Linked DNA regions of Homo sapiens. The protein of the gene in region 1 purifies or fractionates together with the protein of each later gene. This does not show direct contact. Each region holds a gene or a part of one and is shown in the gene's direction. Other genes may lie near its edges. The genes, in order: ARID2, SS18, SMARCA2 and DPF3.

Evidence for each region.
Region 2: the proteins of ARID2 (region 1) and SS18 purify together in Homo sapiens (affinity purification with mass spectrometry; 4 studies listed by BioGRID and IntAct, with this or other methods). This does not show direct contact.
Region 3: the proteins of ARID2 (region 1) and SMARCA2 purify together in Homo sapiens (affinity purification with mass spectrometry; 2 studies listed by BioGRID). This does not show direct contact.
Region 4: the proteins of ARID2 (region 1) and DPF3 purify together in Homo sapiens (affinity purification with mass spectrometry; 4 studies listed by BioGRID and IntAct, with this or other methods). This does not show direct contact.

What each region holds. Positions count from the first base shown.
Region 1 is NC_000012.12:45,725,449-45,733,010, forward strand, and holds the start of ARID2 (AT-rich interactive domain-containing protein 2), read left to right. Parts: upstream 1-4,257; 5' UTR 4,258-4,388; coding exon 4,389-4,480; intron 4,481-4,595; coding exon 4,596-4,689; intron 4,690-5,768; coding exon 5,769-5,866; intron 5,867-7,562. UniProt on the Homo sapiens protein: Involved in transcriptional activation and repression of select genes by chromatin remodeling (alteration of DNA-nucleosome topology). Required for the stability of the SWI/SNF chromatin remodeling complex SWI/SNF-B (PBAF).
Region 2 is NC_000018.10:26,052,337-26,060,060, reverse strand, and holds part of SS18 (protein SSXT), read left to right. Parts: intron 1-2,318; coding exon 2,319-2,472; intron 2,473-7,215; coding exon 7,216-7,437; intron 7,438-7,724. UniProt on the Homo sapiens protein: Appears to function synergistically with RBM14 as a transcriptional coactivator. Isoform 1 and isoform 2 function in nuclear receptor coactivation. Isoform 1 and isoform 2 function in general transcriptional coactivation.
Region 3 is NC_000009.12:2,017,842-2,025,565, forward strand, and holds part of SMARCA2 (SWI/SNF-related matrix-associated actin-dependent regulator of chromatin subfamily A member 2), read left to right. Parts: intron 1-4,103; exon of another isoform or gene 4,104-4,276; intron 4,277-7,724. UniProt on the Homo sapiens protein: ATPase involved in transcriptional activation and repression of select genes by chromatin remodeling (alteration of DNA-nucleosome topology).
Region 4 is NC_000014.9:72,883,728-72,891,451, reverse strand, and holds part of DPF3 (zinc finger protein DPF3), read left to right. Parts: intron 1-7,724. UniProt on the Homo sapiens protein: Belongs to the neuron-specific chromatin remodeling complex (nBAF complex).

The sequences.
Region 1 (7,562 bases):
CTCAATTTATTTCAGCTGTTGTAATCATACACCTGATAATGCTTGATTTGAAACTGGGTACAGTTTTTTAAGGTTTAGTTGAATGAGGGAATTTTTAATTTATCACAATTTCCTGACTAATATGAAAACTGATGGTAAGAATGAAAAATTCAAATAAAATAACATAAACCTCTAATTACGGCGTGCAGCGTTTGCAGTTACAAAAGCAACACTACATTTTTCCCATCATAAGCGCTTTGTCATCAAAACAGTAAACTATACAAATTGGATTGCAACAATTTCCACTGTTATTGGTAATTTTTTAATAGGAACACTTTCCATTAATGCTTGAAAACTACGAACTACATTTTATTTTATATCTTGTCAAATTAGTTGGAGAATATCTATTGTAAAGCTGTCAGCACATCTCTAACATTACTTTGTCAGGATCCACCTGCTCTATGCTGCCCACTATAGGAAATGCAATATGGTAATAAGAAATGTAATAGAAGGTTACTTTAGTACAATCTCATAAAAAACATACTCTGACTCTACTTGGATGCTAAATGTGGTGTTTTTGCAAGAGATACAGACTGATTAGTGGCAATCAAATTTATTAACTGTAAAGGACATCAATAAGAACAGACAGGACCAGAAATTGTATCTTGGTGATCCACATGCCAGGAGTAGCGCGGCAGAGGATGGAGAGTGGAACTTAGCGATTGAGGCGCAGCCTGCAGAAAGCTGCACTTCTGCACTAGAGATTAAATAAGAGGGTCAAAATCAACATAAACTAAACCCTTTTTCAAAGTCATGTAAACACAAATGATTGCTGCAACTGGAAAACAACATTGAAAATAAATGATTCGTGTGATGCATATCGATTTCAACAAACCTTTCCTTAAACCTTTAACGTTACTCTTACAAGCAAATACCGTTAATAGCTTACTTCTGTCTTAATTTTTCTAACCACAGGAAAATTGAAACATAAGTAATCTGATAAACATCAAGTTTTACGTTGATGCTTTTGACCACAGGGTATATACAGTGTTAAGAATTTAAATTCTATCCATCAGATATACTTTAGGACTCCATTTTGAAGATAGCCTCTTCTACAGAAAAGAAATTTTTAAAAGTCAATTCTCCAGTTTCTCATCACATCTTAATTTTTTTAAAAAGGCTTTTAAACACTAGTATCACTCCAAGTCTTTAGCCTTTGATACTTGCTCTGAAAACACACTATCGTATGTTTGTGTATGTACACACACACACACAACAGTGACTTAAAAGTGGCAACCGCCTCTTGAAAAGTAAAAATATGTCATCCCTCCATTCTGCCCTTAAATGAGAAATAAAGACAATAGATTTGCCCACTGCAGACTGGGATACCAGAAAAGACGTTCTAAGTCTCGCCTGAGACAATATTAACCTGCTATCTTAAGTCCCAACTTGGATGACTTAAATTTCAGTGTACGTGCCTCCGTTCCCACTCTTGCCCCATCAGCTCCATCAGCATCGTCATCCCCGGCTCGGATCCCGGCCGCGACCCGCCAGGGCCGCCGGAGTCCGCGAATACCGCCCGCTCCCAGCAACGAAGCTCCCCGGCTCCCGGCCGACCGCGAGTTCCTGGAGCAGCAGCCTCCAAGGTTCCCAAAGCCCACGATTCAGGCGAGCGGTGCCGACCGGGCCGTGGACTGTGGCATTTTAAAACTACAGAAGTCTCACTGCACGACTGGCGCGGCCGAGGTGGCCCAGGAGACCCTCCAAGAGATTCTGGTCAGCTGCCGGGAGCGTGGAAGAGCAACCAAAGCCACCAAGGCGCCGCGCCAAGTCCCCGGAGCAGTCACCTCAGCTTTCCGTTCTCCCTCTAGTTACAATTACTCCACAGGCTTCTGGCGCTTCCTTCGAGAAAATGAAAAACTAAAAACGCGTAGAGGTGGTAGAAGTCGTTGGCATTTTCCGTTTAATGTGATCCCCCAGGCTCCATCCCTTAAGTGGGGTTTCCAAACTCGGATGCATCCTCAGCAGAGGTTTTCCATGTTGACAGATCTCTCGCCTCCCACAAAATGGGGCCGGGGAGGCGGCCGCGGTCTCCTCTATGGGCGCCGCCATTTTGTGAGGCGGCGGCGGCGCGGCGGCAGGAGCCCGGGGTGTGTATAATGGTTGAATAGAATGACCCCCTCCAGGGAATCCCCGGCACTGACGGTTACGTAAGGGGCTGTGCGCAAGTGCGGCGTTTAGGGAATCCGCACAGCCCGGGCCACGCAGCTCCGAGGCCCACATCTCCACTTCCCCTAAGAGGACCGATGGGGGAAGGGACAGCTGACCGGGTCTTCCTCGCAGCAGCCTCACCCCTAGTCTTCCGCGGCCGGCGAGCTTCTCCACCTCCCCGGGCCGGGTCTCCGCCCCTCACAGGCTTCCGAGACACTCACTGGCCCTGGGTTGTCAGGATCTTCCTAGCCACAACCTTATTCCGACCCCACTTAAGAGACAAACTTTAGTTGGGAAATAAGTCCGTTTCCTAGAGTGAGCACCGGAAGCAAGCTGCACTATATTACATAATTTTTCACCTCCAAAGCAATGTTCCCATTGGAACGACTACCTGAAATAACCCATCCAGACCCCTACTACCCTGTGACCTTGGGTTAGGCAGTGACTTTGCCCGTGGTGGCCGTCACTAAAATGGGAATAATAATACGTTTCACGTACTGTAATCTTAATTAACATTTGTAGCAAAGAGCCGGCTCCAACACCCCTCGTAAATGCAAATTTAGGTGGTAGTATTTGTTGAGATGTTTTGACTCATTTAAGCAAAGGGTTTTTTTAACCTTCAAAATATTTTAAACGAGGATTACATTTAAGACATTTGAAAGCAAGGAAAAACGTTTTATTCGGTATTTATTTTAAACGCAGCAATCTTGAAGAGACCTTACTATAAAAATGTAAACCTTAATTATTATTGTCGAAGTTCGATAGATTGCTTCCCAACCAGTTTAGTTAGTTTGCATAACTTTGCTCATAGAATACTCCAGTTTGATATGTGAAGCCAACCAGCGGCAAGATGAATTAAGAGCATTACTCTATTTCCACAGAACTAGGACAGACAGTTCACATTGTATTTAACGTATAGTTTGCTAAAGTTAGCGTGTGGATAATTCATAGAAAATGTGCTAACCAGGCCCCAAAATACTAGCATACGGCTCATAAAAGCCGATTCCTTTAGATTTTACAAAAACAGAAGGTAACAAATTGACTTTATTCCGATCTGTGAATGTTGCGTAGCGTGAGGGGCTACCCCGGTGAGCTTCCTTTCCCTTCAGAGCGCCACACCGGTTCTGTCGGGCGGGCGGGGACTCCGAGGCGGCCCTTCCAACAGCCGGGCCGGGGACGCGAACATCGCCTCCACCCCTAACCCTGGAACAACCGGTAGTGGCCGTTTCCCCGCACCGCCCCCCTTTCCGCCGGCTTTGTGTGCGTGTGAAATGTGCGGCACATTGCAGACGAACCCTAAGCCCGGCGAGTCGAGTCTATTGTTCCCCGCGAGGATCTGCCGGGGCGGTGTGGAGCCAGGCGCAGTGCCGCGGCCAGCCCTCGGGGGTCGCTGTGTGGCACTGGCTGCCAGGCCGTGGCGGCGGCAGAGAGGGAGGCTGGCGGGGAGGGAAGCAGGCGGGCGGCGCGCAGCGGCTCAGCTGCCGCCGGTGCTTCTGCCCGGGGACGCCCCGGCCTCAGCGGCCGAGGCCGCGCGTGAATGTGTGCGAGGGCCCCGCGGAGCCGGGGCCGAAATACACGCTGTCACCGCGCTTTCCACAAACCACCACACAGACCTCCCCCTCCCCACCCCCAGCCCCGCCTGCCCTAGCCCCGCCGCCGCCGCCGCCGAAACTCTTGGGCCTCTGGCCGCCCAGACCCCTCACCATCGGCTCGCCTTGCCCGTCGCCCGCTCGCGCGCCCCCGGCAGCAGCACCATGTTGAATCGCGTCCCCGGGCTGAGCTGCCTCAGCCGGCGGCGCTGAGAGGCGGGCGAGAGCCGGGCCACGGGGAGGGAGGGAAGGAAGGGGTGGGGGCCGCGCTCGCCCCGCGGCTTCGCGCGGATCCGGCAGTCGCCTGCCCTTCTAGTTTCGCTCCGATTTCTTTAAACTTTTTTAGAAATTCCCCTCCCTCCTTCCCTCCTCTCCCCCTGGCCTCCTGCTCCCTCCTTCCCCTCCTCCTCCTCCTCCCCCTCCCTCCCTCCCTCCCTGCGCCGCCGCCGCCGCCGCCGCCGCCGCCGCCGCCGCCACCGCCGGCCCATGACTGAGCCCCGCCGCCGCCGGCCGAGGAATGGGCTCCGGGCTCTGGTAGGAAGCGCTGGGAGCGGGGGGCGCTTTTAAAACACCGATCTGGGTTTTTTAAAAACCTCCTTTGAAAAAATAATGGCAAACTCGACGGGGAAGGCGCCTCCGGACGAGCGGAGAAAGGGACTCGCTTTCCTGGACGAGCTGCGGCAGTTCCACCACAGCAGAGGGTGAGAGCAGAACCGGGGGGGCAGCGCCGGGGCGAGCCGGGGCGAACGGGGCTCTCCCGCCCGGGCCGGGCACGGGGTCCCGGCTGACAAGTGCGGGGCTTTTTCTCTCCCGCAGGTCGCCTTTTAAAAAAATCCCTGCGGTGGGTGGGAAGGAGCTGGATCTTCACGGTCTCTACACCAGAGTCACTACTTTAGGCGGATTCGCGAAGGTGAGTGGAAGTTTTAATTTGTATTTCCCTCTCGCTGGCCTCCTCCAAAAAGTCTCCTTTGACCCCGGAGTGGGCGCTTGGGGCTGGGGGGGTGGCCCGCGGGGGCAAAAGGCGTTCTTTTCGCTCCCAGCCGGTGGCACGGAGGCGGACGGCGGCGGGGCTGTTTTTGGCCTGGTGGCTCGCGTGCGCGCGGCGGGCGCGGGGCTCCGGCGGGCGGGCGGCCCGGCGCCGGCTCGCGCCCTGCCCGGTGCCCGGTCGGGCCGGCGGGGTCTGAGCGCCGCGGCGGGGAATGCGGGCGTGCGGGGCGCCAGCCTGAGCCCCGCGCCCGCCCCGCTCCCGCGCCGCCCGCCCGCTCGCTCGCGAGTCAGCTCTGCCGCCGCTGCCGCTCTAGCACAGGCGGAGACACACAGAGACACACAGACTCTGAGAGCAGTTTTCGTGCAACTCAAAATTAGCGCGGGCAGGTTTAACATCGATAATCGGCTGCGAAATAATCCCGGCAGCCGGGGGCACAGCCTCGGCCCCGTCGCCCTCGGTTTATACAGCTAACAAAAGAAACCAGGACCTGTCTCCAAATAGCCATCTTAGGCTTCAAGGCTAGGCAGAAGCTGTAGGCCTCAAAGAAGGGCCTATGGAGATGGATAGATCTGGGAGAGGGATCGGAATCGGCCCCAGCCCCGGCCCCCCCCCCAACCCGCGGACGTCGCTGTCCGGAACTGTATTGATCCTTTTGAACTTTTTTTTTTTTTTTTTTTTTTAGTGTAAACGGACCGCGTTGAGATTTAAAAGGGGGCGACAGAGGGACTTGCGATTGGTTATTGTCCGGGCTTCAAAAACAAAACAAACCCACCAAACCCCCCCACCCCCAAACAAAACAAGTGGTATTAAATACAGGGCTCTCTGGTGAAAACACAGTGATTCAAGAAGCCCTTGCTTAGTAACTCTTACCGATCGATCCGAAACACCCACTGATGCCTTAGGTATCTACAGATCTCTGTAGAATGGGTATTTATTTCATAGTTAGGTTAAGATTTTCTTAGATTGTTCACGTTCAGACAACTGTGCCTGTGTTTTACCAGGTTTCTGAGAAGAATCAGTGGGGAGAAATTGTTGAAGAGTTCAACTTTCCCAGAAGTTGTTCTAACGCTGCCTTTGCTTTAAAACAGTATTACTTGCGGTGAGTAGTAGTGACTTTTCCATAGTATTTGGAAATAAGGGACTTATGGAGAGATTTGTTTTTAGCAAAAACAAAAGCAAACCTTGCACACCAAACAGTTCTTAAGCTCTTGTTCATTTCAGACTGAGACACATTTAATATAAATAAAGTGAGATTGTAGGAAGGTGAAAGTCTTCCTCACCAATTTCAGGATCGTTTACATTTTTCATACAAAATCATTACAGGTGACACCCCAGCCCCAATCTTGGTAAACATTCTTTTGTGACATTGTTATTCATCGCTTGATACCCACTGAGGGGCAGAAAGGTGATGCTTAGTAAAAGACTTAAGATAGTTAATGAAACTTTGTAACCTTTGGGAAAATTTTTTTCTTTGTTTTGGAAACTCCTTTAGTTTTAAAAATTCTGGCTTTAAGAATTTTTTTTTTTTAATGAAACTTCTTGTTTGGAACAGTGTCATTGAATAGGTTTTTCAGTAGAATATTCCTACATGGCATAACATGTTGGTGGCTTAGGTGACCAGGATTGTTTTGATAATTACTTTTTGTTGAATTTCCAGTGACTTAAATTAGTAATTTAAATTAGATAATTTAAATTATTATATCTTTAGGAAAATGGGGATACTATGAAATGGGATACTATAATCTGGATTTTCTTTCATTCTCCCTCTTCTTCTTTGACTGCTTATTCGGCAAAGTTTAATTTCTTATTCAGTTGGTATGTGATACAGTCTAGATGATATATTTTGTGATTTAGCGTTTTTTTTTTTGCCTCTAGTTTTTCTTCTAGGAATACTTTCATACTGTAATTTATCATGATGCTGTGTTTTATTTTTAAAGTGCTTATCTTAGAGGATCCTAAGTTAGTTGGTGTTATTAAAAACTAAAATGATATTCTTTGTATTTATTGCTTTTTAATAGTGATAGTACAGGCCTTTTTTTGTAAGGTGGCTTCTGCATAATTTGAGTTTTGCATTTATTATTGCTTCAGATGCACTCAGTTATTGTGTATTACGTTCAGCATTCTGAAATAGGAAATGCAGTAATCGCACAGGTGTACTTTCTATTGGCTATCTTAGATTGACTTCAGGCTTGAAGCTGGAGTTCGCAGAACTTTGTGGAGTAGTTATTGAGTTACACAGGAAGTCTAGAAAATATTAAATATGGTTGTCATCTATTGTGTGTGTGTGATGGCATTTGTGTCAGAGTACATTTTAAATTAAAGGGCTAAATCAAAAAGCAAAATTAACCTCCAAAACCGTTGAGTTAGTAGTGGGGTGAGAAACAAGAGAGTTTTATATTCATCGTGACATTCATTTGCTCATTTCTATTTATGATATTGAGAGGAACATGTTAATACATATTCTGGTTTTATGTTTTTATCAGTTTAAAGCATTTGAATTTTGGACTGTTTGAAATACATATTTTTGAAGTTTTGCTTCATATTTGTTAGATTGATTGACTTAAGTTTTATAACCAGAAAGTACTATAGAATATACATGATTCATGAGATGTATATTTTTCTGAAGAGTTTACATTCATACTAATAGTTTTAGCATAATCAAATTAATATCTAGGCTTCCAATTTTTTTTAACAAAAGTTAATTATAAATATTGTTTTTCCAGTTGTCATTTTTATCTTGGGAGGATATCATTAATTATAGGTACTGTTTTTAACTATATAGTTTCAACATTGTA
Region 2 (7,724 bases), on another chromosome or scaffold:
TCTTTTTAGTATGTACCAGGAATGGAGTTGCTAGATCATATGGTAACTGTTTAAGTTCTTGAGGAACTGTCAAACTGTTTTCCACAGTGGCTGTACCCTTTTACATTTCCACCAGCATATATGAGAGTTGCAATTTCTATACATTGTTCACAACACTTGTTATTTTTCTGGACTTTTAATTTTTATGTTATTGCAGCTATCAAAGTGGGTGTTGGTCATTTATTTTTGTTTTTTAGAAAGCCTTGCAATTTTTAAGAGTGTTAGACCTTGTGGTTGAACAATTATAGAAGCTCTAGTTTGTGTTACTTTGCTCCAAAGAGAATTAAGTTTTCCTTTGGTATGTGAAGTACTAGGAGGTTACCTTGAATCTATTAAAGGTTGGTTATAAGACTTTTTAGGGCTGATCTATTTCAATTTCGACCTTACTCTTAAGGAGTAGCTGGCCCTTCTGTAGTCTCAACAGAGAGTTGGAGTTATTTATGAAGGCTCCTCTAACTTGGTGGGGCCTACACTCCAGTCTTTGTCTCCATATCAGTGAGCAGCAGCTGGAATCTCTGCTGAGCTCTTTAGCCTCCTACCTGCTATTTCGACTAGTTTTCTTGAATGTTTCCCCTCTTGTGGTCCTTTCTCTCTGGAAATTTATTCTTTAGTTTCCAGCTCTTTGATAGTCAAAAATTCTGACTCTTTTTTTTCCTTAGTCCAATTGGACTGCACTTTCTACTTGAGCTGTATTTCCCTGTTACTCAGCAAACTCAAGGAAAAAGCCAAGATAATTGTGGAGCTGGTCTTATATGCTTCCGTTCTTTCAGGAGTTGTAGCCCCTTCTGTTCCTCTTTGTGTAAGTCACTCTTTAGTGGCTTCAAACAGTTTTTACTTTTTGTCTAGATTTTATGAGTTTTATTTAGCTGAGGGTTAGTTTGATACAAGTTATTCTAGCATGGTGGTAACAGTAATGATGTTTTATTAGTTGAATTACAAGAAAATGACCTCACTATTAAGAGTGAGAACATGAATTTTTAACAGAAAATTTGGACAAGAATAGAGGAAGGAGGATTTCTGTTTTCAGACAGAAGAGGGTTAAGGTAGCCAGGTTTGAAGGATGATAAATAAGGATGATTAAAAGTTAGATAATATGACTCAAATTAGTGTTTTTTGTTTGTTTTTTTGTTTGTTTTGGTGAAAACTGAACAAGGTTTTTAAGTGTTTAAAGAATACAAGTTGGAGAAATAATATGAGAATTTAAGAGAAAATAAGAGCATTCATCTGGATTTAGTTGTGAAGAAATTAAAATTCTGATTTTAAAATGTGTGCTATTAGAGTAGACTTGTTTATTTCTGTAAATGTTAGTGATTATTAACTGTTTGGAGGTTTGAGTATTTAAATGTGATGGCCAAATAACAATGTGTATCTATTAAGTGTGCCAAAGAGAATTGTGTTCACAAAATGGAAAGGCATACAGTAACTGGCCATTTTTAAATGTAGGAGGAAGAGAACAACTGATAATACAGGAATGGACATTACATTTAGAACATCGAAGTAAAGAATAATGCCTCCCTCTCCTCCTACAAGATTAAAAATGGGGGATTGGAGCGAAACTAACCGTTTGCTTTCTCCACCAAAATATCCCTAAGAAGGGACCCAGGTGTGGCAGACCACCTCATATCTGTTTTTCCTTTTGCCCTTTTGTGAACTCTGAAGGTTAGTCAGTGGTTTTCTTCAAAATTGCATTAGGAAATTTGCCAAGGGCATCCTTTTGAGGCAGCTGTCTCTGTACCCTTGGAGGCCATCAGTAATGTTTCCAATCTATAGCAGTAGTCGGCACAAAAATGTTGAACTGTTGTCTTCATGTTTTAAAACATTCCTCTGCTGCCACTATCCTCCACCCCGAAATAGTGTAAAATATGGCACATTTTGGGACTTAGAGTCCTTTCATCATTTTTTGTTACTGTACATTTTTAGGTAAAATCCATCATTAATAAGTGTATCCAATACATCAATAATGAAAGGACATTTAATTTTTTTCACATAATTTAGATAATAATAGACACATTAGAAATGCTTAATATATAAATAAATGAGAATTTTTTGTATAGAATGTTAACATTTTAATTTTCACTACTGAGATTTTATAAAGTAAATATGCTTTAAAGTTTTGGGGGTTATTAACTATGTTCATGATGAAAATGCATTAGAAGAATTCGAAATGCATTTGTGTTTTTGTTCTTACTGCAATTTAGTAACATAAGCAACTCTTTTACCCTATGCATCTTTCGTATATTAGTCTGTTTCTCTTGTTTTACTAAACTGTCTTCTTTCAGCCACCCACACAGAATATGCCTATGGGTCCTGGAGGGATGAATCAGAGCGGCCCTCCCCCACCTCCACGCTCTCACAACATGCCTTCAGATGGAATGGTAGGTGGGGGTCCTCCTGCACCGCACATGCAGAACCAGATGAACGGCCAGATGCCTGGTAAGTTTTTCTCCTCTAAGACATTAACACCAGAGTTGCTTAGCAACTGAAACGACATGGGGGCTCAAGGGATACTAGATTGTTGATGACAAAACTGCTTTGAATGCCCCCGAGTACAAGCTCTCTTAGAGTTTGTTAGCTACAGAGCTACGTGACCTGTATTCAGTGTTTATCAGGCTGCCCTTGGGCTTTGATGTAGCTGACACACACCATTCCTCTGATGAACAGAACTGGCTAAATTTAGTCTGTCTGAAACTGCAATACAGTTGGCTTTAGAAGCTTTTTGGAAAAAAAGGCGTTGCACCATGGCTTAAGAATTAAAGTCTGTTTAAAAAAGATATTATAACATTTCCCTGAGTTTTTATTTACTTAAATATTGATTGATCTCAGAAACAGTATCACTGGGAAAAACACATGGGGAAAGAAAACAGTCTCTGAAGTGCTGGTGTATTTAGTATTTCCTTATTGATATTGAAGCTGAATCTAAATTTTTTTAATACATAGGTTTATAGCATAACATAAATATTGGAATTGATTTTAAAGCAAAAATTAAAGGCTGAAAAATAATGTAAACTTCCTTACATTATTTATACACTGAGCCATTCTCTTTTCTATTTGTCAATTTTAAGTGTAGGGTCACTAGGTTGATATGTTTTAAGACATTGGATGCTGATTTAGTTACCTTTGGCTGGTTTGAAATTTTAATCATACAAGTATCTTTACACTATTTTGTTTTTGTAACAGTAGCATCAACCCATGGCCGTAATTTTTGGTAGAATATTATCTACATTAGGTATCAGAATATTTTTACCTTCTAAGACAAAAGTTATTTTCATTGATAAAGAAGACATTATACAACTAGCAGTAATGGAAATAAAATAACAGAACAATTATTAAAATTAGTAATTGGCATCTTTAGGATACTGTTTTCTGTAGCCGATTGTGTTGATTGATAGCATTGGTGTCCAAGGATGATGGGTGCAGTAAGGAAACAAGAGAGCACAGAGCAAAAGAGGTAAGGTAGCCTGGCTTATAGAAGATTGAGGTGTGACTGATCATATAGGAGGGCAGTGGTGTTTCAGTGGCTGTCTCCTATTTCCTGCTAAGGCTTGCAACATATATGGCACACATCCAGTATGGAGGTAGGAATAAAGACATCACTGCTTTTCAGTTTGTAGTCATATTGTAGTCAAGAGAAAGCTTCTTGCCAAGTCCACATTTAGTTCACCAGGACACACTGTTTTTAGAACTGGAAAGGTAGTGATAGTGCAGGTTAGCTAGTTAGGAGTTTTGTGACTTTTTATGATGGTACTTTGAATTAGGATTTTGACTTAAATTCTCTGTGTAACATTGAAGCCTAAGGCCAAAGAAGCATTTGAGCAGCAGTACAGTTATGGTTAACATGACATTTTGGTTTTGTGTAAGGCCTTCTGAAGTATATTCTTTTATAAGCTAGTTATTATCAACCACTTATGACCTGGGTTGTTCAGAATACTATAGAGCTTCCGAAACAATAGTTAAGAATTTCTCCAGGCCAGGCGCGGTGGCTCACGCCTGTAATCCCAGCACTTTGGGAGGCCAAGGCGGGTGGATCACGAGGTCAAGAGATTGAGACCATCCTGGCCAACATGATGAAATCCCGTCTCTACTAAAAATACAAAAAATTAGCTGGACGTGGTATTGCACGTCTGTAATCCCAGCTACTCAGGAGGCTGAGGCAGGAGAATCACTTGAACCCAGGAGGCGGAGGTTGCAGTGAGCCGAAATCACGCCACTGCACCCCAGCCTGGCGACAGAGTGAGACTCCATCAAAAAAAAAAAACAAAAAAAAAAAAAACAGAAAGAATTTCTCCTAACAATAGTTACGGAGTTACAGTTAAGTGTAGGAGAAATTGGAAGGCCAGTAACTTATATTTTCTTTATTTGTTCCTTATAGCATTTAGCCAACCTGTTTATGCACACAAATTTGCATCTTGGCTGTTTCCTATTTCAGTTTGGTTTTTAATGTATATTTCATTATGTAGACTCAGTTTTAGAGCTACTTATGTTCTCATTGATCTGGGTCAAATCACTACTCAGTCTCAGGTTCCCTTTTTTAAAAATTACTATTTTTTTCTTTTTGAGACAGAGTTTTGCTCTTGTCGCCTAGGTTGGGGTGCAGTGGCACAATCTCGGCTCACTGCAACCTCTGCCTCCCGGGTTCAAGCGATTCTCCTGCCTCATCCTCCCGAGTAGCTGGGATTACAGGCGCACACCACCACACCTGGCTAATTTTCGTATTTTTAATAGAGATGGGGTTTCACCATGTTGGCCAGGCTGGTCTCAAATTCCTGACATCAGGTGATCCACCCGCTTCAGCCTCCCAAAGTGCTGGGATTGCAGGCATGAGCCACCGAGTCCAGCCTAAAAAATTAATTGATTTTTTAAAAGCTAGGTAATACATGCCTATGGGACCAAAATCAAAGGATACCAAAGGATGCCTAGCCGCCACCTCTCCAGACAGTTCTAGAGAGGCATTGGTTTCTAGTTGTCCTTCAAGAGATATTCTCTCGCTGGGCATGGTGGCTCAAGCCTGTAATCCCAGCACTTTGGGAGGCTGAGGTGGGTGGATCAGTTGAGGTCAGGAGTTCAAGACCAGCCTGACCAGTGAGGTTAAACCTCATCTCTACTAAAAATACAAAATTAGCTGGCGTGGTGGCACACACTTGTAATCCCAGCTACTTGGGAAGCTGAGACAGGAGAATCGCTTGAACCCGGGAAGTGGAGGTTGCAGTAAACCAAGATTGCACCATTGCACTCTAGCCTGGGCAACAAGAATGAGACTCCGTCTCAAAAAAAAAAAAAAGAGAGAGAGATTTTCTCTATATAAAATAATGCATGTGTATTTCCTTTATTTTTACTCTTTTTTTTTAAAGTACAAATGATAGCACTCATTAAATACTATTATGTATCTTTTCTTTCTCAAAGATATATCTTGGAGACCATTATTTTATTCCATATGTAAATAGATGCCTTATTCTTTTTGGTCTCTATCATGTTCTTTTTTACAAGTTTAATTTATTCGAACATTTAGGATGGAAACATAGGCTTCTAGTCTTTTGTTATTATGAATTATACTGTCATGAATTTGCTGTAAAAATATATATACACATATATATGTGTTCTGTGTGTCAATACGCATGCACACAAAAATTTGTATATCTCTAGCATAAATTCCTGGAACTGAAATTGCTGGGTTAAAGGTATATATATTTTAAAATTTGACAGTTAGTGCCAAATTGCTTTGTGTAAAAATAGTAATATCCATCAGTTCTGCATTTATGAATTTCACATCCATGGATTTAACCAACAGTGGATTGAAAATACTTGGAAAAACAAATTGTGACTGTATTGAACATGTACATACTTTTTTTTTCTTGTCATTATTCCCTAAACAACACAGTATAGTGACTATGTACATAGCATTTACATTGTGTTAGGCAGTACATGTAATGTAGAGATGATTTAAAGTATATGAGAGGATGTACATAGGTTATGTGGAAATACTGTGTCATTTTATGTCAGGGACATGAGCATTTACGGATTTTGAAATCTGTGGGTGGTTCTGGAACCAATCTCCCACAGATACTGAGGGACAACTACTTTATTTGAATTGTTGTTTGTCATCACAAATTTCCTCAAGCTTGATCCCACCCTTGATTCCACAAGCTTGATTCCCCATGAAATATAAGTAAGATTTCTGTTCCTTCAACAATGGATGAAAGTGCTTCTTTCTTCACAATATAGTTAGATCGAACTTTTGATTTTTGAGAATCTGAGAGGTGAAAGTTCGGTCTCATAGTTTTAATTTGCCTTCCTATTTTAAGTGAAGCAATCAATCTTTTAATGTTGATGAACCTTTTTGTAGTTTTTGTGTGAACTAGTCATTCCCTCATTATGTCCTTTGCCCATTCTTTTACTGGTGGTGGTCTTTTACTTACTTCATATGTTAAGTAATTAATTTGGTCTGGGTCTGCGATCTATCTTATAAATAATATTTTCTTATTTACCTTTTTATTATTTAATTTTGAGTTTTTTATGTCGTGCAAATTTTTAAATTTTGTATAGTCTAATTTATCAATGTTTTATGGCTCAGGGTTTTCTGGCATACTTAAGAAGGTCCTTCCATTATTATTTTTAAAATTCTCCTTTTTGAAATTCTTTTATGGTTTCTTCTTTTTAAATGTTTAAGTTTTCTATTCATCTAGAATTAGTTAGTGGAACAAATGAGATAGTGATCCAACTTGTTTTTTCCAGATGGCTCCCCAGTTGTCACAATACCATTTACTGAATTAGTTTTCTATTGCTCACTAATACTTAATATTACTGTGATTATTTACTCAGCTATGTATTTGGGTCTACTTTTAGACTCTGTTCTGTTCAATCGATCTGTTAGTCTATTCATTTATGTTCATAGTTAATTACTCCAACCTTATGATATGTTTTGCTCTTTTATGAAGAAGCTAGTCCTTCCTTCTTTTTCAGAGTGCTCCTGACTTCAAAAGCATCAATTTCTTAATCCAAAAATGGGAATAACTACTTCACAGTATTTGCTGTCTTTTCCTATAAACCATTTACTTTGCTATCGATTAATTATTGTTTGGTATTACTATAATAATGCAAAAAAAAAATTATTTCCAGGTACTTTTGTATGGACCATCTGTTTAACTTTCATATTTTGCTTCTGATCATTTTTCTTCAAAGGGCCTAACCATATGCCTATGCAGGGACCTGGACCCAATCAACTCAATATGACAAACAGTTCCATGAATATGCCTTCAAGTAGCCATGGATCCATGGGAGGTTACAACCATTCTGTGCCATCATCACAGAGCATGCCAGTACAGAATCAGATGACAATGAGTCAGGGACAACCAATGGGAAACTATGGTCCCAGACCAAATATGAGTATGCAGCCAAACCAAGGTAACTAAGCTTTATGTCCTTCTTGACTAGAGTGCTCTATTAGCCTTTGAAAAGTAAAATGATTGTTGTCAGGTTCTTAGCTGGTTCATAAAAATAAAAGTTTAAAGTGAGTGACAGTCATGCCCATAAAAAGGAGATGTTGAGTTTGAAGCTAGTTTAAATCTCTTTGCTCAATGTAGCTTTTTAAGCTTATTTATTTTTATGTCTTTTGGACAGTTTGTTTGAGGTTCTGTATTGTTGAGAATTGTTTTTTAAAGCCAGTCAATGAAGAACCAAACATTTGGTTT
Region 3 (7,724 bases), on another chromosome or scaffold:
TTTCCAGTTCTTTCCCTGCCAGCCCCCTCCGGTCTCCCGGCTCGCCTTTCCTGCAAAGTCAGGCAGGCGGGGGAAATGGGCTCCTTGTCCTCCGATCGATTGCGTGGAAAACTTTCCAGCGGGAGGCACCATGAGGGGGAAGAAGGCCTTGCTGGCCGCTGTTGCTTGTCAGTTCTTTCTCCTCCGGGTCCGGAGAGTGTGAGTCGCTGCGCCCGGGGCTGTTGCACATTCAAACTTCGGGCCTAAACGTACCTCCAACTCTCGCAGGTTTTACTCCAGCAATAAAATAAATATTCAAAGTCGTCCACTAGCTCTTGCTAGGCGTTTGGATTTTTTAAGGGAATGAGGAAGGCTTGGGAATCGAGGGAGTGGGGGTGTTGTGCAGAATCCATTCCTTATTCAATGTCTGCACCGGGTGTTATGTAATTTTAGTGGCACATGGGTGCAAAGCCTAGACTGGGCTTCTCCCCTCCTTTGTTTATATAACTTTTGGGTGAGTTTTGCAAGGTTGTCTCTTTTTTTTCCTCCTCCCTAACCTGATGGAGGTTGGTGCTTTGGAAAAAGCAAAGCGACCTGGGCTAGTAATCTTTTGGAGAGGTGTCATCATTGTCTCCTTTCTGGTCATTATGTAGGCATGTATGACTTTGTATGTGTACTGTTAGAGCTCAAGGAAGACATTAAGGATACACAGTTTGTTGACTGCACTGAGCGGTTATTTTTAACATTTCTGCGTTACCAATATCGAATTTCAAACTTCCATTTCAAAGGACTTAAAATTTACACCTGGTTGTGTGCCTTGCTTGTCTGAACAGAATGCTTGCATAAATAATGAGATTGTTGCTTGGGCGTTGAGTAGCAGAAAATTTCTATCCAACCACCAAAGACTCAGAAACCATTGAGAACCCTAATAATAATTTAAAAAGCCATACCCAATGTTATGTGTGTGTATACTTACATATTCACATTCAAATATTTTCAGTAGTATTTTCCATCTGTTATCAGGGGGGCCACAACCAGAAGCTTGTTGGCCAGCATTGGAGTTTTAGGCTTCCAGGCTACCTCTAGCACACTGGTGAAGTGTTAAGAGGCGTGGCAGATTTGAATCCTAGTTGCTGCATTGTTATGCAAAATGAGACACACTTTTTCTTTGAGGAATCTAATTGCTCTTTTATTCTCTTGGACTTTCTTTCTTTTTTTCCTCAAATGCTTCTTTACAATGCAAATGTTTGCTATTGTAAAGAGGGGATTTAGAGACACCTGTTAGGTCCAAAAGATACTTATTGCGGTAGACTGAGGGGAAAAAAAAAAACAACCCAGTAGATCAGAGGTCCGTCTACCTTGGGGGCATCAGAGAGATGCCATTTTTGTAAAGAACATTTCAAATGAATGAGGAATGTGGGGTATCAGAACCCTTGAAGAGGGTGAGGGGAGGGAGGGCTTCCTTCAATGCAGCCTTTCTCTTATGACTTATATCAGTAACAGCCCAGCATCAGGACTAGGTGCACTGTGGTGTTTCACAGAAAATATTCACCACAAGAGCATGTTCAAAGCAGCCTTAGATCTTTTCTTTTGTTCGTTTGTAAAGTGGTTTTTGAGCATTTCTCGTCAAGTTTCTTGAAAAGTGCTTTGACCAACACCTGAGGCTTAGAATTGACAAAAAAAAAAAAAAAAAAGTGCCTCGGCTTGTATTATATTGTTAATGCTTGAATTCTATTTAAAGTATTCCTGACATGGTATAACTAGAAAGTGACACTTGTGCAGATAAGTATTTAAAATTTTTTTCTTTTATTAAGTTTAAGATAAATCATTCTACAGGCCAGTATAAAAGCATATCACATCCTTTTCTAAAAGGTAATTGTGATGCTCCTTATATTGTTGTAATATTTTGACATTTATTATTATGTATTACAGCAAGAGCATAAAAAGAAGAGTTTTATAAATTATAAAAGTGGTGCTGTCCTCCAGTGTTTTCTTGTTTTTTTTTTTTCTCCTTTAGAAATCTTCCTTTGTAAACAAGGCCTTTGTCAAACTCTTCTAGGTCAGCAGCTTTTTGATACCCCAGAGAAATAATAAATCACTATTTATGACATCTTGACATGGTGCCATGAGGACAACTGAATTATCACATATGTAATACTAAGGACTGTTTCCCAGCATTTGCAAGTGGAAGGAGTGTTGGTAGGACCTGATTTAACCACTTTAAGATTTGATTCTGTTTCTGGTCAAGATGATTTAAGGGACGATAGGGACAAATTCTTTGGTTAACTTGAGTTACCTTAGAAAACTATATGAGTTACATTTCTTTTCTGCTGTATTTCTTGTGAACAGATGAGAAAATTTCCCTAGTATGAAAGCCACATTTAGGGGCTATTTCTGATTTCTCCTTTTTAATGTAAAAGAATTATCTTCTAAATTGTTTTTTTTTCCCCCTTAAATATTGTGTTTTGGAGATGTCTTTGGCCAATAGAGGATGTGAATTTTCTGTCATTTTTGGAAGCGTTCTTATTAGGGGACTCTAACCTTTAGCCGGTTAATAAAGCCATGGGTCATTCGCTAAGTAGTGAATAGAAAATACACATGGTGGTAATTTATTTGATAGCATATTTAGGAAGGCCTGGAGTGATTATTTTTTCTATATAGAAACTTATGACTTTATACTTACTAGGGACTATAGGAGTCTAAAACTATGTTCTGCCAGAGTCATTATGAAAGAGAGCATATTTATTTACGTAAGATATTTATCATTAAGTTAAATGGGATCTTGCAACCTGGGCTGGCAAAACTGCAGCTTTCTTACTGTTTATTATGAGTTTATTATTACCCATGTTAATATAGCACTTTTCCTTGAAAGTGTAGGATATGTTAAAGAGAGCTTTTAAGTAGTAAAAGTTATAAATATATCGTCAAAGATGCTTGAATAATTGTACCTCAGAAAAACATACAATAGAGCCAATGAAATTCAGGAACAAAATAGCTGGTCTTTTGAATGTTTGATATAAACACCTCATTAATTTACACATTTGGAGTGATGGTTTAGATATGGAATACAAGATTTTGGCCTGAAACTCTGACATAATGTCCTTCTGGACTTCTGGGTTTGTAATACATTATTATATAATTGAAGCCTAGTATGAATTAGGATATTTTATTAGATAGCTACGACTTCCAGAATATTTGAACAATTGTAATCTGGCCGTATACCTGTAAGATTTACAACAGTTTTTAAAACCACAATATTCTATAGTATTTTTAGGTGGATTAGTATCAATTTAAGCATCAATCTTATGCCAGTATGTCATCTACATCTATGCAAGCAGTAATATTTTAGAAACTTTTTAGAAACTGGCCTAATTTAAATATGGGCTGGCCCTTTTGTAAGTTGATGAATGGGACCCACAGAAGTTGAAATAATATTTAAAGTTTGAAAACCATTAAATATAATTGAAACTCCCTCCTTTAAAAAAAACAAAAACAACTAAACTCAGAATTTGGAATTCAAAATTACTTAAAAATGATAAAAATCTCTAACCAAAAAGGAACGTCATATGTTGGCTTACAGGTTATCCAAGGGAAATTCTGTATCAGTTTGCACTTAAACTGTATTTTTCTGGTTCAGGATGATTATATATTTCTTTACCTACTTGATGTGGTATATTTCAGTTTTTACCATCCCACTGGGAGATGCTTTATCACACATGGATATTGGATGTCCAGAAGGAAAGCCCTCTCCCATCTTCCCCCCTGTGCTTTGTTGAACTGGACATGTAATAAATGGCTTTGCAAATAGTCACAATTATTTTGTGGCTTGCTGTTGTGCTATACTAAAAGACCATTAAGCAGAGTCCAAAATTCTGTAAAAAATAGATGATCTGTAATTGATAATTTATGTGTCTTAAAGAATGTACCTGAACATTTAATATTGTATTTATAATAGCATATTGAATACAAGTAACAAATGGTAAACTGCATGGGCCATGTGATACAGAGAGAGAGATCAGGGTGAGCTTTCTTGAGCTGATGGGGTAGATAAGGTCTTTGAGATGGGATAAGGTTGCTGTAGGGGGAGGGCAGAGGTGGGGGTGGTGGCATCTGAGCATCCCAGATCAGAAGAAAGCCCCGAGATCACAGAGACCCGGCGAGATCACAGAGACCCGGCCTGAAGGAACGTGGAAAGACCAATGTACCTGTTTTGACCGGTTGCCTGGAGCAAGAAGTTCCAGTTGGGGAGAATTTTCAGAAGATAAAGTCGGAGATTGTGGAAAGACTTGACTTGCAGGTTAAAGCATGAATATTTTATCCAATCTGTATTGGAGGCTTGTCTCAGAAGTTTTGAACAAGGGAATACATGAACAAAGCAATATTTTAGATTAATCTGGCAAATTGTGGATTCAAGTCCAGAGTGGGAATTGAAGCTGTTAGAAGGATCCTGGCAATAATGCGAGCATATAGTAGCTCACAAGGTGTCTTCATATCTCATATTTTATTTGATTCGTATCAAAATTGAAGTTGTAGTCAGCTACTGTTATGCCTATTTTGTAGGTAAGGAGCTTGAAACTCAGAGAGGTTAAATGAACTCATTTGTTGATTTTTTAAAAGGCATAGTAACATCATTAATGGCTATTATCCATTTTAACTGCAATGAACTTGGAGTTCATTGTTGAATTGTTGTTGCTACTGTGAAAGTCAGGGCCAGTTGACATTAATGAGTGCCTATGATAGAACTTTAGTTCATTCAGCATATGATGGTTGAGTTTTACTCTTCAGTAAAAATGTGCCATTTTAACCACAGGTTTTTAAAGTATGTATTTCAGACTCTTCTTTTTATATGTTTAAAGTATAAATAAACTTATCTTGGCAGTCAGAAAAGGAAGTGGCTGTTGTTGATTCTTATCAACATCCAGAATGAGGTTGCTTTGCAAAAGGGCCTAACCTAGGAGAGACAGGCATATGTGTAAATATACGTGACATATTACCTTTCAGGGTGTCATGATTTGAAACTAACTTTTTTTTGTTCAGTTTGTTAGCTTTTGTTTTGACCAGTTTGCCCAGCCCTTTGGGTTCCACTGAATTTTAAAAGTGATTTTCATCTGTGATTACCTTTATAACTACTAATGGACATGAGTCTCAGAGTAGAGGATGCTTTGCTCTAAAGGGTTTCTAACACTTAGGTTTTCTCGTAAATTCCCTTTTTAAAACAATTTTTCCTTTGTGGGATCACTGTCAGTCCTCATGGAAGAGGCCATGAAATTGCATCGCTGGTAGACTCTTTTGAGATGGCAACTCATGGTATCTATAAGGGTGGTAATGTTAAGAGCCAGGATCCTATTAAGGCAGTGTCTGAGGTTCATGGGGGACTAATTAGCTGCTGCCGAGTTTGTTGTTATCTTTTGTTGTGCACAGAGCTGCCTCACAGCCTTTGCCAGGTCTGACTCTGGGCAAGGACCATTCCCAAGGCAGTTTATTTAAAGTGAGGGTAGCAGCTCACCCACATCCTAATTTGTTGCCCTGATTGAAAGATGAAGGAGAGTTCACAGAAGCCCAAGGAACAGAGCAAAGTTTTAATCTAACAACTTTTAAAAAACATATTTGACTTTGAAACGAATGGGAAAGTGTTGTGAATAACCCCAAGAATGCTGAAGAAATGTTCTCAGTGATTTTCTAGGGTCTTGATGGAGCAACTTATAAGGTTAACTTTAGAACCCGGTGTGATTTGTATCTGACAGATCACATTATGCATTGTTTAAAGTTGCACAGCTCAGACCAAGAAGCAGTGTGGGCCTTGGTAATGTTTCACCGCTTATCCCGACAACCTTGGCCTGTAAAAAGGAAACTTCGGGTAGATTTATTTCCTTTATCTGCATTGCTGTTCTCCTTACCCACCCCGCACTGCTTCCCCATTAAGAATAACAGTGCTTGAGGCCCAGTTCTGAAGATGTTGCTACTTCTTGTGGGTGAATTATCAATTCATTTACAGAGAAAGCCACATACAAAACAAGAGGCAGCCCTTCAGGTCAGGGGAGATGTTCTGAATCAGCAAACAGACATAAAAAGAACTCTTATCTTAACTATCTCCTGAACCTTGCAGTTCTCCTGTAACAGCCAGAACACTTTAATAAGACTGGGATATTCTTGGAGATGTGGACTGGGCCTAACTTTTATTTCTGATATTCCACCTTTAACCTGGACCTCCAAGTTTTTCTGTAAAGTGAGCTGTGAAAAAAGACAGGCTGGAGATCCAAGATTTCCTTGTGCTTTCTTATGAAGTTTGGTGAAGAGCAATTTAAGAGATATTGTCAAGGTTGGTGTGCTGCCCCAAACTCTGCGACTAGAAACCAAAAGTTTCTAGGGAACTTTTTTTCTTTTTTTTAAACTTGAAGGCCTTGCTGAAATGCTACCTTCTCCATTACACTTTACCTAATTCCTTTCTCTCCTGTAACCTCTGAGCTAAAGGTAATGTCTCCCATTCTATGACTGTGTTGGATAGTTTGGCTGTACCCCTCCGTGTCCTGCAGGATCTTTCAATATTTTTATCTTGTTGCTACTTACGCACAAGTCTGATTTCCGTATCAGACTTCCAGAGTTGTGGGGTAAGCCTTCTATTCATTTTTGTACCGCCTGCATGCCTTGTACCTAGTAGATACTCGGTATGGTAACTAAAACATCATCGACCTTTTCAGTTGATGACATGGTCTTCTTTTCACATTCCAGGGCTTCTCTTTACTTCTCTAGCCTGTGGTAAGTTAATATATTATCACAACCAAAGCCTAGTCCTTGCAAGATATCCCTTCCACTGTTTCTGACCTTTTTTTCTTTGGCTTCTACTTTCTACCCCTGCACATTGCTCTGGCCTGGTGAAAACTCTGGTGGAAACATGGCTTGCTAGATCCGTGTCATAGCTCAGTGTTGGGCTGGGAGTCAAGGGATAAAAGATTCTGCCTGCGGTTTCTCTCCTGTTGCAGATGTTACTTTGGGCAAGCCATGTTTTCCCCTTCTGCCTTATTGCCCTCATCTTTTCAATGGCGTTGTGGCAAAATGTCTCTTCAAATCACCAGAATTATTAGGAAACACATGTAGGTGTGTTCAAATATTACTCCACATGTGGGGGTCTTTGGTGTTTCTGTTGGTTACAATTAGACTGTAAGACACAAGTTTTGTCATGGTTGGAGTGGTGACCCTTAAAATTCCATGAAGTTGAACTCCTTTTAATATGCAGATGGCTGTGCTGAGCCTTTCAGCTAAGGGCAGAGGAGATTTGGGCTGAGGGAGGATGACTGTGGTGTTTGGAGCTCTGGCAAGCTCCTCTGGGGCCTCTTCTTTTTAAAAACACACACTCTCTAGTTGTGAATGTAGGAAAGTGGGAAGTAAGGACGAAATCAAGACAGAGTATACTGCTGAGAAATTCTTGCCTAAGAACATAGTGGTTTGGCCCTCGGGGAGTCCTGGTCTGGGGGAGGGTGGGGACCAGCAATGCATGTGTATGGGGAGGTTGCTGTGCCCCCCTCTCCCCAGATACATTTTTGTCATTATGTTTTTAGCCACAGACACATAGTTGTGGAACAGGTCGTTCTTTTCTGTGACAACGGGAAACTCCCTCCTTCTCCTAACACAAAATAAAAATAGATTTTGTGTGTTATTATGTGAGCAGACCTACCACTGCCCTGTGAAGTCCATCTGGGCCCTCTCCTCCAGCCCACCCTACTATGCTTACTGCTGTCGTCACCACC
Region 4 (7,724 bases), on another chromosome or scaffold:
GGGGTAGCGGGGAGAATGGTTTGGAGAGCTATGTTTTTATCCTCATGTGTCCCTCCTGACAATGAAACAGAGCTGAACGACATTAGCATTTTCTCTGTGTGCGTTCTGAGTCTCTCTCTTCCCTCCAAAAAAAAAAAAGCCAACACCACGGACGTCTCCTACAGAAAATGGTCACACAAAGGTTTCCTCAGGATGGGGGGATAAAGTGGTGGTAGTTAATGTGTTGGGAAGAAACAAGCTCAGATTTCCAGCAGCACCTATGCAGGGCTCTGCCTACGCTGAGTATGGGCTATTTTTCACTGTACTAGCTTTTTCCACGTGGGACATTCAATAATTCAATTAGCTGGGGTGATGGGATGGCACAATTTTGAATCTCATTGCTTTGGGGTTTTCCTTAGGGTCCCAAGCTCCTGAAGCCACATCTCCTCTCTTAGCAATTTGGCTTTCTTCCTGCCTGTCTTTGATCTCCCCTCAACTCCCTTTCTTTTTCTTCCTTGTTGTACCCTTCACCCCCTTCCTCTCTGAAGCTGACAGCCCAGCTTCTCTCTCTGTTGTCGCCTTTAACATCTTATTACTGCCCAACAGGGTGTTAGAGGCAGAAATAGGAGCCGCCTGCACTGATCAGATCACAAAGGGGACACGGCAGGTGGCCCCCACAACCAAGCAGTCACATCTGGACAAATAGAATTCAAAAGCACTGGTGGACATGTATGATGTGTAAATGTGTATTACATATTATTTAATTTAGCAGCTACATTGTCTGAGCAAAGATGTATGAGAGTTACCCTCATTTCTTACATATACAAGCGAGATAAGGCCCAGGTAGTGAAGTAAACACATGCAGGTAACATAAATATGGATTTGATAAAGGCCTGCATGTAGATTAGTCACGTTCTGGTTGATTTGTGCATACCTGGGAAACATAATGCTATTATTATTATTATTATTATCATTATTTTTTGAGACAGGGTGTTGCTCTGTTGCCCAGGCTGGAGTGCAGCAGCAGGATCTTGGCTCACTGCAACCTCTGCCTCCTGGGTTCAAGTGATTCTTGTGCCTTAGCCTCCAGAGTAGCTGGGATTACAGGCGCGCACCACTACACCTGGCTAATTTTTGTGTTTTTTAGTGGAGACGGGGTTTCTCCATCTTGGCCAGCTGGTCTCAAACTCGTGGCCTCAAGTGATCTGCCTGCCTTGGCCTCCCAAAGTGCTGGGATTATAGGAGTGAGCCACGATGTCTGGCCACATAATGCTTTTAATATAAATTTGAATCTTAATATTCTAGTTCAGATAAACCACCTTCCCCCAAATCTGCAATCAGTACTTTAAACAACTTACTCTTGTATTATCAAAATCCTGGTTGGTATGCATTTAACTGAGAATGTCTGCCACCTTCTGCCAGACTTGATTATACACATATATGTCTATTATTATAATTGCCTACTTAGAAAAAAATTATTATTATTAAATTCCATATGAACCAACAGGGCTTTACCTTAAGTAATTATTTATAAAGAGACCCATAAACTATTTTGTCATGCTTATAACTGTGAACACACACATATACGTGATTGTATTGAAACTTTCTTTTGTAAGGAGTTAACCTTGCTTGGAGGTATGTGTTTATGTCCCTGTTTTGTTGTTAAGAACACTACTCTGGGAGAAGAAAATAAACTTACTTAGCCAAGTCAAACAGCAGGTCATGTGTGTAGATGAACGTCAAATCTAGATCTCTTTGTGCATTCTATGACCTGTATTAGTGTATTCTAATCTAAAGTGGTTTTGTGCATGTGAAAGTTAGAAGCCAGACCTCACTCTTGCTGTGGCACTCAGTTTAGATATCAGAGGGGAAGGGGTGGGGGTCACATTCCTGGTTCTAATCTCCTCTTAGCTCTTTCTGTCGAGGTTGGGGGGATGTGGGTAGGTACTAAGTAGACAGCATTGAGGCCGGGACTTTGTGAACTTGCTGCCTTTTATGGACATTGTTTTAGCTTCTTATGAAAAAGGACCCTCGGACGTTGTAAGCCAACAGATTCCCAAGAACCTGTTCTCCATCTGCTTCTGGTTGCCACTATAAAAAAGCCCTAAATTCTCCAAACCTCATTAGCACACATTATTTTTCAATGGGTAAATGTCTGCTTTTGATGAGACACCTATGATGGAGATTAATGTCTGCGAGAACCCAAGTGGAGGCATTGTCACAGGGTAAACCTCTGAAAATAGCCTGGTCTGCAGGCCTCCCGGGAGACATTGAAGACTGCCAGTTGAATGGGAGCTGCTTAGTCACATAAGGTGGGCTTGAATTCAGAGACAGCTGAGTTGGAGACCTCTCATCCTCCTCTTTTTGGAATCATGCAGGTAGCTGGAATTTGGATACATCTGAGAAAGACCATAATGTCTAAAGCTGTTTCAGAGCCATCTGTTCAGATCAATGCAAAAAATAAAATGTCATGGTCAGCATGTTTTGTTTTGATCATGCACCAGAAAAAGAATGGAAACTGAGGCTGATGTTTCAGTTTTCTAAGGCAGCTATGCTGACAGTAGTGGCGATGGGGGCTGGGTCATAAAGAGGCACCAGAATCCAGGCCTGTTTATTATCCCAACCTCTGCAAAGTAACTTTTGTGGTTTTTGAGTGTTTTGAAAGTCACTAGAAAACAGAAATGTAGCCAAATGTTGCAAACCTCTGGCCAAAAAAATCCCACAACCACTGAAATATTTTTTGCCCAGCTACGACCCAACAGGGGAATTTGTAAGCATGGCCCTAATTTTAAATAGTCTTTAAATATGAAGGTAGTTAACAAGGAAAGATGGAGAGTGGCCTTGGGTAGGGGGAGGATGGAGGAGTGGGTAAAACCACTGTGTGGTATGGAACTCTGCAAAGATTGTTGTTGAACTGCAAGAGAGACTGATATTGTGATCCATTGCAAATTCCAAAGTTTTCTAGTTGTTTGAGTGACTGGGGAGAGATGAGGTGTTGTAGTGTTTTTGTAATTTGTTTTTCTTATTGGTCCGGTTACTGGTGTTTCACAGTCTGTCAAACCATATGGATGAATGGAGCTAGCATCGTAAAACTGTCACTGAGGGAAGGTTTTTGAAGCCTGTGATTTGCATTAGAGTTTTAAAAGCAGTGGTTAGGAGGTGTTGGTGGGGCAGAGGGAAGAGGAGCAGACTGGAGAATTTCTAGGCTGTGTGTTTGTGAATATTAGTGTGGCAGGCAGTGGCAAGGGAAGGGAGAGAATCCCTGAAGAGGTTACAATTTAGGGGCAATGTGTGGAAGCAGGGAGGGGTGAGAGGATTAGGTTCAGAGCTCCTAATAATGGGGTTCAAATAGCCCGCATTGAGTCCTCACCAGCCAGGCCTCAGTTCTGAGCCTGCGGAACAATGCTGGCACATGTCTAATCCCCACTTTGCACCCTCTCCTCCCTCTCTGAATCTGGGGACTGTGATCATCTCAGGTTGCTGATAAAAGGTTTTTTTTTAGTTGTTGTTATTCACCTTGAAAATCTGCTGTTTGAATGATCTGCACTTGGAAGCTCCACCAGAAAGTTTTTCCCATCCTCACACTTTCACCTGCTATTGATGAAACCCGTCTCAACCTCTTTTCCTCTTCCATGTTCATTTCTCACCAGTGGCTGATTTTTTGTAGCCTTAGTGACTTCAGAGTAATGGAGGAGAAAAAGCTCTGGGAGAGGAATCCCAAGCCTTGAGCTCCGCTTCCAGAGCTACAGGCAACTAGCTTGTGATCTGGGACACAGAACTTTGAGCCGCATATTCCTTGTCTTTATGATGGTGATGTACTTTGATTCCCCAAATTCCTTTCAAGCCAACAACTTTCTGGCTCTTATTATGGTGGATTAGGACAGAGAGGACAGCTAGGGGCCAGAGTTCTGATTTTTTCTTATTTTTAAAGTGTGGCTCTAAAGAGAACATTTAAGACTGGAGACTTCCACAGTTTCTTATTCTCTGATTCAGTCTTGCTACATGGTGCTCCCTTCTTGGGGTTCTAAGCTGGGTGGAACTTCCTATCCCTTCTCAAGGTCTGAGGCTGAGGACCAGGTGGTGGGCCATTTAGAATGTGGGCTTTTCCTCTGGCTCTTCCTTTTCAGTGATTTTCTTCTCACTAGCATCCCATCCAGAAGCTGATGAGAATGAGGAACTTGAAGACCAATTGGCCTATTTTGACGTGGATAAGCACTCAGTTTTTGGTGGTTAAAAGACTGGAATCACTGAGAACATCTGTATTTTGCTTCCTTTTGTGTGTGTGTGTGTGTGTGTGTGTGTGTGTGTGTGTGTGTGTGTTTGGAGGCAGAAGGGTAACCAATTTTCCAGCCAGTCCTCCGGTCTGGACTTTATTTGTCCATGATCTCTCTGGCCTTCTCCTCTACCATGGCACCTATCCCAATTAATCTGAAAATAAAGTGCTTATTTTATTTTAATTTGGGCAGCCACAGATACCTGGATGTTTAGTGAGCTGAAGTAAGTGGACCTGTACTGATGTCTCACTGAGCTTCCTCTAGCATACCTGTGTTACTGCTGAGGAAATGGAGGTGCCCAGCAGTTGTGTGGAACTAGCCCCTACCTGAGTGGGTATTAGCCAAGACTAGACTGGACTTCATGCCTCCCCTTCAGTGACATGTCTCCAGAACATCTCAGATTTCAGTGGGGACATTATTATCAGGCTTTTCTTTGGTGGAAAGCTTCCATGGCAGTTTTTTTGCAAGCATAAAGAGAAGGGGGAGGAGGTTGCAGAACTCATCAGAGTCTACACAGGAGCTGGTGTGTAAATTCTGAGACTTTAAAGAGAAAACAAAATGGTCACCCTGACCTCCAGCAGAGAGAGGCATTCCCTCAATTTTTCTTTATTGTGCTAAAATATACATAACACACAGTGTACCATTTTAGCCATTTTAAAGTGTGCATTTCAGTGGCATTAAGTACATTTATTTCTAATCTTTAGTAGAGATGGAGGTCTTGCTATGTTGCTCAGACTGGTCTTGAAATCATGGCCCCAAGGGATCCTCCCACCTTGTGCAACCATCACCACCATCAGTTTCCAGACCCTTTTCTTTCTTTCTTTTTTTAGATGGAGTCTCGCTCTGTCACCCAGGCTGGAGTGCAGTGACGCGATCTTGGCTCACTGCAACCTCCGCCTCCCAGGTTCAAGTGATTCTCTTGTCTCAGTCTCCCGAGTAGCTGGGACTGTAGGCATGCGCCATTACACCTGGCTAATTTTTGTATTTTTAGTAGAGACAGCATTTCACCATGTTGGCCAGGCTCGTCTCGAACTCCTGACCTCAGATGATCCACCCGCCTCAGCTTCCCAAAGTGCTGGGATTATAGGCATGAGCCACCGTGCCCAGCTGCCCAGACCCTTTTCATCATCCCGGAGAGAAACTTTGTATGCATTAAACAATACTTTTCCATCCCCTGCTTCCTACCATCCCTGGGAACCACCATTCTGCATTCTTAGCACCCCATATCAGGGGAAACATACAATATTTGTTCTTCTGTGTCTGGCTTATTTCACTTAGCATAATGTCTTCAATGTTTGTTCATCCATGTTGTAGCATAGTCAGAACTTGATTCCTTTCTATGGCCATTGTATGGATAGCCCACTTTTTGTTTACCTGTTTAACTGCCGATGGGCATTTGGGTTGTTTCACCTTTTGGCTGTTTTTGAGTCCCCATTTTCATTTCTTTTGGGTTTTCACTATGCCTAGGTCTCCTTCATTTTTGGACTGTAAAATCTAGGGACTAAGCTAGGCTCATGCCTGTAATCTTAGCACTTTGGGAGGCTGAGGCAGGAGGATCCCTTGAGCTCAGGCATTCAAGACCAGCCTGGACATATCATGAGACCCTGTCGCTACAAAAAATAAAAAAAAAAGCCGGGTGTGGTGGTGTACACCTGTGGTCCTAGCTACTCGGGAGGCTAAGGCAGGAAGATGGCTTGAGCCCGGGAGGTTGAGGCTGCAGTGAGCTGTGATCACGCTACTGTACTCCATGTACTCCAGCCTGGGTGACAGAGCAAGACCTTATCTCAAAAAACAAACAAACAAACAAACAAACAAACAAACAAACAAACCCAAAAAATTAGCGGCTACATTTCTAGATAATATAGGCATTCTCCACCTTATAAACTAAACAAACAAAAAAACCCAAACCTAATAGTATTACAGAATTCAACCTCTCTGCCTCTCCCTCTATTGGTAGTCCATTGCGTTCTGGGATAAACACACTGGGAACTAGGAACCCAGAGACTCAATTCTCCCATCCCCAGCCACAGGGATTGCCTTCCCCTCATATCCCCCTTCCTGTTTTTTTTTTTTGAGACGGAGTCTCGCTCTGTCGCCCAGGCTGGAGTGCAGTGTCGCGATCTCGGCTCACTGCAAGCTCCACCTCCCGGGTTCACGCCATTCCCCATTCCCCGGGCTCAGCCTCCCGAGTAGCTGGGACTGCAGGCGCCCGCCTTACGCCCGGCTAATATATATATATATATATATATATATATATAGTATTTTTAGTAGAGACGGGGTTTCACCGTGTTAGCCAGGACGGTCTCGATCTCCTGACCTCGTGATCCGCCCGCCTCGGCCTCCCAAAGTGCTGGGATTACAGGCGTGAGCCACCGTGCCCAGCCTATATCCCCCTTCCTTTGAGGGCAGGGACTCCTCGTGGGGGTCAGGGTTTGGGTTTGAGGCAGTTCCAGGGGCTGTAGCACTAGCAGTTACCTGGTGAGGCTTGGAGTGAAGGCTTCCTAGGTGGATGGAGATGTGATGTCTGACAACAGGAGGTGGGTGGAAGCACGGTGATGACAGGATAGCTTGGGGGGCAGGAGTTAGCAAGTCAGGCCTGTCCTTCCAAACAGCCAGGAGAGCTTGTGTCTCCCTTCTCCTCCCTTCCCCTTCCTCCAGCCTGGCTTCCCCGCAGCGGCCCACATGAAATAATGGATGTGGAAACATTTCAGAAGGTGGAAAGTGCAAATGTGAGGTGTTACTATGAGAACTAAAAGTTTCCTGTAGCTGATCATGGCCTCCTCAGGCAGTCAATAATACCTACTATATTAAACATTATTTTAAATATTAAAACAAAAATAAATGTTTCTGGCATTACCCATCACATCTAATCATTGTTTCTCAGGAAATGCAAGGTCTACTCATCCAGGCTGTGTAAATAGCCCTGGGATCTCAGTGGGATTTTCCTATTGTCTGGGTTTGAAATAAGTGAGAATGTGAGCTCAGGGGAAACCCTCATTTCATTTCCGGTCATAGCCCTGACCTGAGTTCACCCACCAAACCAGAGGAAGCAGAAGCGCGGTTGGTAGAGTGGGGTGCTCTTCTGGGAACTTGGGCCTTTGGTCCTTGCCTGGTCTCTGGCTCCTCCTTCAACTGAGATGACTGAGGGAGAGAGAAGAAGTGGAGGCGGGGCAGGGGCTTAGATCTGCTTGTGAATAAGGAGAGTGAGCTGTTGGCATTGGAGGTCAGTGGCAAGAATGGATTCTTTTTCTTTTTCTTTTTTTTTTTTTTTTGAGACAGAGTCTCACTCTGTCGCCTAGGCTGGAGTGCAGTGGCGTGATCTTGGCTCACTGCAACCTCTGCCTCCCACGTTCAAGTGATCTTGTACTTCAGACACAGGAGTAGCTGATATTAAAGGCACATGCCACCACACCCAGCTAATTTTTGTATTTTCAGTAGAGATCGGGTTTTATCATGTTGGCCAGGCTGGTC